Linked DNA regions of Homo sapiens. The protein of the gene in region 1 purifies or fractionates together with the protein of each later gene. This does not show direct contact. Each region holds a gene or a part of one and is shown in the gene's direction. Other genes may lie near its edges.

What was found. Proteins that work in one complex are often made in the same cells at the same time.
Region 2: the proteins of B3GALT1 (region 1) and SLC35A2 purify together in Homo sapiens (affinity purification with western blotting, with the first as the bait; one study listed by BioGRID). This does not show direct contact.

What each region holds. Positions count from the first base shown.
Region 1 is NC_000002.12:167,291,416-167,295,168, forward strand, and holds the start of B3GALT1 (beta-1,3-galactosyltransferase 1), read left to right. Parts: upstream 1-1,585; 5' UTR 1,586-1,919; intron 1,920-3,753. UniProt on the Homo sapiens protein: Beta-1,3-galactosyltransferase that transfers galactose from UDP-alpha-D-galactose to substrates with a terminal beta-N-acetylglucosamine (beta-GlcNAc) residue. Involved in the biosynthesis of the carbohydrate moieties of glycolipids and glycoproteins.
Region 2 is NC_000023.11:48,905,665-48,908,799, reverse strand, and holds part of SLC35A2 (UDP-galactose translocator), read left to right. Parts: intron 1-2,256; coding exon 2,257-2,408; intron 2,409-3,135. UniProt on the Homo sapiens protein: Transports uridine diphosphate galactose (UDP-galactose) from the cytosol into the Golgi apparatus, functioning as an antiporter that exchanges UDP-galactose for UMP.

The sequences.
Region 1 (3,753 bases):
CAACAAAAACCCCTCTCTAGATTAAAAATCTAGTGTGGTGTGGTCCATATTCTCTGTTTTTAGCCTTTAAAAAAATGAACTTATCTATTAGCACAGCCAGTTCTTTTAAGAAGAGATCATCTGGCTCCCAAACTACATTGGTCAAATTACTGAAGGGGAGGAAGGCATAAGAGAATTGGAAAAAACAGTGATGATATGCACATAATTTCTATAGTACTAAAAGATGGCAATACACATCTATTTTGCAATCAAATTTTCCTCATAATGCTAATAAAATTTAGACAGGGTTTGTTTTGGTGATCACAGGATATATGGAGTTTTTAAAGAGTAAGGTAAGTGAAGAAAAGGGTGATTATTATTGCAAACAAAAAGGATCCCTTAAAAATACAATTAGCAAGAAGAGCTTCAGCATCATAGCTAAGACACATTGAATTCCAGCAATTTGTCAACTATGTAGCTGATATACACACTTGATTTTTGACCCTCACAACAACGTTGTGAGGTGGGTATGACTATTTATCAGAGGGTCACTTTGGGAAGGTCCCAAGCTTATTACAACCTTCATGTACAACTTTTTTTTTTTTTTTTACTAGAACATTGTAATATAAACTTATTGGTAGAACTCTGAGCCATTCAGACATATTTGTACTAAAGAAACTAAAAATGTTCCATAAGGGAAGATCATTACAATTTAGGGGAGAGTGGTGCAGAAAAACATTTTGTGGCTTTTGTTTTCTTTTTCTTTTATTGCTAAATAACATTACTTCGCTAGTGTTTGAGTCAAACACACATTAAAAAAAACTATTAGAACATTCAGACTTGATTATCCAAAGAAAAAGGAAAAAAAGGAAGCCAACCAATTAGGGTGGCTGCTTAAATTATCTTTCCCCATTCTCAAGGTTTTTTGTTTGTTTGTTTGTTGCGTTTGGGGTGGGGAGGTGAGGGGCGTTTATTTGGAGGGAAGACGGGGAAGGTCCACTCTGCCTACAACTCCGACATTTCTCCGTGTGCCTCTTTGCTAGCTGGGGACACTTCGTGGCTGATTACTATGAGGAGTGGTTCGAAGCCTAAGAAGTAGTACTCTTTTCAGCTGCCAAAGGGAGAAGGACGGGGGCGCTGTCTGGTGACTGTTCGCGTGATTCCTTCAAGGCGGCGACCACCTCCTGGGATTCGCTCTCCAGCCGCGCCGTTCGTACTCGGGTCCCGCGACCCCTCCCCGCTCCCCCCTCGCCCCAGCGATGCCAAGACGCTGAACCGCAGGGACGAGGCTCTGGGGACAAAGTCACCCCGCGGCGCCCTTTCCTGCCAAGCCGCGGGCTCCTGGCGGTCAGAAAGCGCCCCAGGCCCACCCCTGCGGGCCCGGCTTTCCCTCCTCACCTAAGGCTCCGGGGCCACGAGTCCCCCATCCTGCGCCCCTCCCGCGCCTCCCCCATCCCAAACCCCAGCAGCGTCGCTGCCTCTCCCGGAAACAAGCCCGCTGAGCAAAGGCGGAGGAAAACCTTGGGCCTTCCGCTCTGATTGGTCTCCCCCCGCCGAGCGGGGCGAGGCAGCGATTGGCTGCCGGGCGTTGTCAGTCGCCGAGGCCAGAGCCATCGCCGGGGAAGCGCAGCCGGGCTCGGGTGCTTCGGCTGCCGCCGCGGCTGCTCGGCTAGTGCAGCTGGGCGAGCTCGCGCGGGCGCCGCCGCCGCCTCTGCTGCTGCCCACCCCGCCGCGCCGCCGGCGCTGCCGGTCTTGCAGGCGGCCGCCGGGGAGGGGCGGCCGAGAGAGCGGAGCACGAGGAGGCGGGGGCGGCAGAGAAGTGATGCTGGCGCCGGGGATCGGGGCAGCGGCAGCGGAGCAGCAGCATCTTCGGGACCCTGGCTGCAGCGTCCCTGTGGCCCGCGCGCCAGCCCAGCGGCCGGAGACCACGCGCCCCGCGGGTAAGGTTCTGTCCGGCAGCGCCCGCGACGCCCCCGGGACGGCTGGCGTGGTCTTTGGGGGTTACGAGGCGCGTGGTGGCCGGGGCATCCCGACGAAGGTGTTGGGACCCGGACTGCGTGTCCCGACGCTGGGCTGTGCTACTGCCCGCGCCCGTGCGGCTCCAGCTGGTGCGTTCTCCCTTCCGCGCTCACAGACTTTGACAGCGCGGGGATGGCATTGTGTGAGTGTGGATGTGGATGCGTGTGTGCGCGCGCGCGGCTTGGGGCACTTTGCAGCGAGAACAGTGGGTCCCCTCTGCGTGGCCCGACGTCCTTCAAGGACCCAAGCTGGGCTGGAGTGAGTAGGATGCTGTTGGCTCGGCGGGAGGTAGAACGCACGGAGCGCACGGGAAAGTCCACCGTGGCTCGTAAAGAGCCGAGCAAATTGAACTTTATTGCGGTGATTAAAAGGAGCTGTGGACCTGGCGCGCCAGGGGAGAGGCGCGTTCCACGAGGCTCCCCAAAGTCCCACTTTGCCCCGGGGACTTCGGAGGGGAAGGGAAGAGAGGGAAAAGTAACTGTTGGTCCACATTGCTGAAGAAAAGGAGGAAAGAGAAGTTGGGGGTGGGGGTGGGGGTGGAGGTTACTCTTGGGGGAGTGGCGACTTTTAGGTGTCTGAAGCCCCGCGTGGGAGGCTTGCTACACTTTTCTGGAGCGCAGACTTGAGGATGGAGAGTCCCACTCTGAGGTACTGGTAGCGGCTCCTCCTGCCTGGTGGCGGCGTAGGGCGCAGCGGGACAGCTTGGTGGAGGCAGAGCGGGGCTCCGACGCCCGACGGCCCGGCGTCCAGGTGGGGCCACTGCCTCCCCAGGCCGCTTTGGCCCGCTGACCTCCCAGGTTGAGACCCGGCCTGGTGCGCCTCTGGCAGCTGCCAAATGCCTGGCGGCTCCGCTTTCCGACAAAGTTCAGGCCCGCTGGGGTCTGGTCCATCAGACCTAGGACACGTTAACCACGCAGAGTAACCAGGTTAGGGTACCCAGCTGCCTCCAGAGCGTTTTTGTTTCATATTAGATTATCTTATTTGATAAAGCTGTTGAGAGTTCCACCCGTGCTGCAAAGCCTTCCGCAGAAGGCGAATTCTTTGCGCTGCTGCAAATGGATGGTGCTACTGGGCCAGATCCGAATCTCCGTAGTTCAGTGCAGTGGGTTCTCCATCCCTGCTCAGGACGCACAAACTTACTCTTGGCGATTGTTTTCTATGTGGCTCCTTGTCTCCGTGGGAGTATCTGCTTAGGAAAGTTCTTGAAATACCTCAATACTAAGGAGCTCTCCCCACTGTCTCAGATGGGGCGAGGCTCCGGTACTTGACTGGCGTTGGGGTTGCAGCAGGGAATGGAGGTGGAACATCAGCTCCCTGCCTGCCAGCTTTGGTAAAACAAAAATTGGCTCAATACAGGGAGGCGGATCTTGAACTGGGGACAGCATTTTTCTTGTTATGTAGCTCCGTAATCTCTTTCACTAGAGGGATCTTTTGTCCCAAAACAAAACAAATCACAACACAACAAAAATACCCAAAACCAAACCGCAGAAACCACTTTGATTGGGCTCATTTCTGATTTGGTAAACCAGAGAAAATGAAAGTAAGGCACGTAATAGAAATGCTATAGAAAATCAGGAGGGAGCTGTCCAAATATGTCAGGCATTTTTCGATAGTTATTTTTCATTGTAAAGATTCTATTTTCTCCCAATTTAACAACTAAGTTATTTTAAAGCAGATGAATAACTTACGATAAACTAGTAGTGATGTTAGTTTTGGGTCCAAGGATGGTCTCATGGTTTTCATCACTTAATTGTT
Region 2 (3,135 bases), on another chromosome or scaffold:
CCCACCTGTTAACTCCAGGTTAACAAGAGACCTGCTCTTACCTTTGTTAACTCTGTGAACAGTGTAGGTGTGAACACTGCCTCAGGCCGTGGGGGTAGATGGGTTAGCAATGCAGAGGAGCAGCTTGTCCTCATTGCTGATGGAAGATGGAAATAACAGATAGCCACAGACTTAATCACAGGCCTTCATCTCTTAGCCACAATTTCAGCACCCCTCTCTCCCCTGCCCGGAATTTTTTTCCCCTGAATTCGAGTTTGGAGACCAGGAGTGCACAGGGTTTGGTGAATGAACATCAGTAGGAGTTCCTGGGACAACCTTGTTCAGTGTTTGAAGAAGTTTTGCCTGTGGAGTGACACCCAGCTGTGACTTAAAAGATGAACTGCTGGCTGGGCGTGGTTGCTCACGTCTGTAATCCCAGCACTTTGGGAGGCCGAGAGGCAGGTGGATCACAAGGTCAGGAGTTAGAGACCAGCCTGGCCAAGATGGTGAAACCCCGTCTCTACTAAAAATACAAAAATTATCCAGGCGCGGTGGCAGGTGCCTGTAATCCCAGCTACTAGGGAGGCTGAGGCAGGAGAATTGCTTGAACCCGGGAGGCAGAGGTTGCAGTGAGCCAAGATCACACCACTGCACTCCAGCCTGGGCGACAGAGCAAGACTCCTCACCCACCCACCCCGCCCCGCCAAAAAAAAAGATGAACTGCCAAAAAGTGGGGCGAGCTTTGCAAAGGCCTTGTTACATAGGAAATGATTCTCATGTTTTTTGTTTGTTTGTTTTGAAATGGAGTTTTGCCCTTGTTGTCTGAGCTGGAGTGCAATGGCACGATCTTGGCTCACTGCAACCTCCGCCTCCCGGGTTCAAAAGATTCTCCTGCCTCAGCCTCCTGAGTAGCTGGGATTATAGGCGCCTGCCACCACACCCGGCTAATTTTTGTATTTTTAGTAGAGACGGGGTTTCACCACGTTGGCCAGCCTGGTCTCGAACTCCTGACCTCAGGTGATCCACCCACCTTAACCTCCCAAAGTGTTGGGATTACAGGCGTGAGCCACTGCGCCCAGCCCGATTATCATGTTTTCACTGGAGCAGGTCCCAAGCGGACTTCTGCTTAATGGTCAAGCCTGCATTCATCCATGTGGCAGAGGCAACTCTGTGTCTAGGGCTGACAGAAAGATGCAACAAGGGGGAGATGGCCCCTGCCCTCAGACGGCACATGGGTCAGTGAGGAGCTAGGATAAGTCTAAAAGTCTAGACTATGCCTGGTGTGGTGGCTTACACCTGTAATCCCAGAACTTTGGGAGGCCGAGGTAGGCGGATCACGAGGTCAGGAGATCAAGACCATCGTGGCTAACACGGTGAAGCCCCATCTCTACTAAAGATACAAAAAATTAGCTGGGAGTGGTGGCACGCGCCTGTAGTCCAAGCTACTTGGGAGGCTGAGGCAGGAGAATGGCTTGAACCTGGGAGGTGGAGCTTGCAGTGAGCCGAGATCGCGCCACTGTGCCAAAAAAAAAAAAAGTCTAGACTAAACTCTTCTGTGTGGGAGACAGCCCTCCACCCCAGCTCCTAGGGCTTCTATTTCATAAGCTCCAAGTTAATGATGGTTATTTCTTTCTTTCTTTTTTTTTTTTTTTGAGATGGAGTCTCACTCTGTTGCCCAGGCTGGAGTGCAATGGCATGGTCTCAGCTCACTGCAACCTCCACCTCCCAGGTTCAAGCAATTCTCCTGCCTCAGCCTCCCAAGTAGCTGGGATTACAGTCGCTTGCCACCACACCTGGCTAATTTTTGTATTTTTAGTAGAGATAGGGTTTCAGTGTTGTTGGCCCAGCTGGTCTTGAACTCCTAACCTCATGAGCCACCTGCCTTGGCCTCCCAAAGTGCTGGGATTACAGGCGTGAGCCACGGCACCTGGCCTAATGCTGGTTATTTCATTGTACACAAATATATTGAGTATTGAGTGCTTTCCCTGAATGGGGCTCTCTGCCAGGGAGGTAGGCTCTAACATGAGTGACATGCTCTGTGATTAGCAGACACGGATGGCTGATTCTTTTGCTGCCATTAAACTGAGTCTCAGAAAAGCTTGCTGGAAACATGGTTGTACTCTAGGGAAAACCAAGATCACATACTTCATTCCAGCCTCCAGGGATTGGACAGCAGGGTGGATGGGGGAGTCACAGGAGCAAGGCCTGTTCCCAGCCTTCAGGGGTTCCCCATGTATGGCTGTCAGTGCTAAGAAGGGCTCTCCTCCTCCCACCTAGGTAACGTGAAGCACCTGGTTCTCTTCCTCCATGAGGCTGTCCTGGTGCAGTATGTGGACACGCTCAAGCTCGCAGTGCCCTCTCTCATCTACACCTTGCAGAATAACCTCCAGTATGTTGCCATCTCTAACCTACCAGCTGCCACTTTCCAGGTGAGCCCCAAGCCCAGCATGGCCCCAGAGGAACTAACTGGGTTGGGGACTGGAGTATGGGAATAGCGTGGTGGGGGGGTGTTGCAGAGGACAGGGGCTATGTCACCTTCAGAATGTCCTTGGAACTCCTTCAACCTCCCTTTTCTCGTCTGTGAAAATTGGGGGTGGAAATAGTAATGCCTGTTCACTGAGATGCTAGGATACTTAAAAGAAATAATACCTGTGAAGAGCCCTTGATTGGTGACAGATAAGCTTTAGGCTATTTGTGGGCAGCTTTGTGAAATGGTTAAAGAGCCTGGATTCTGGGGCCAGGCTGTCTGGGTTCAAATCTCAGCTCTGCTACCTTCCAGCTGTGTGATTTTGGGGCACGTCACCTAACCTCTCTGTGCCTTAGTTTTCTCACCTTTAAATTGGGGCTTACAGTGGTGCTCACTTCAGAATGGTGTTGTGAGAATTAAATGAATGAATTCACGTGCAGTGCCTAGAACCACACTGATATATTGTAAGCACTATGTAAGTATTTGCTGACATTGTTGTGGCTATTGATTCATTTGTATCAAGTCCCTCATCACAAAGATACTTCCATACCTCAGCCATCTTTTATAGATGATGATGCCAGGGCTCAGACAGGGCAAGTGCTTTGTCCCCAGTCACACAGCCAGGAAATGGGATTGGGATGTGGACTTCTTGGCACAGCCATCCTTTTGTGCACTTGCTGGGAGAGACT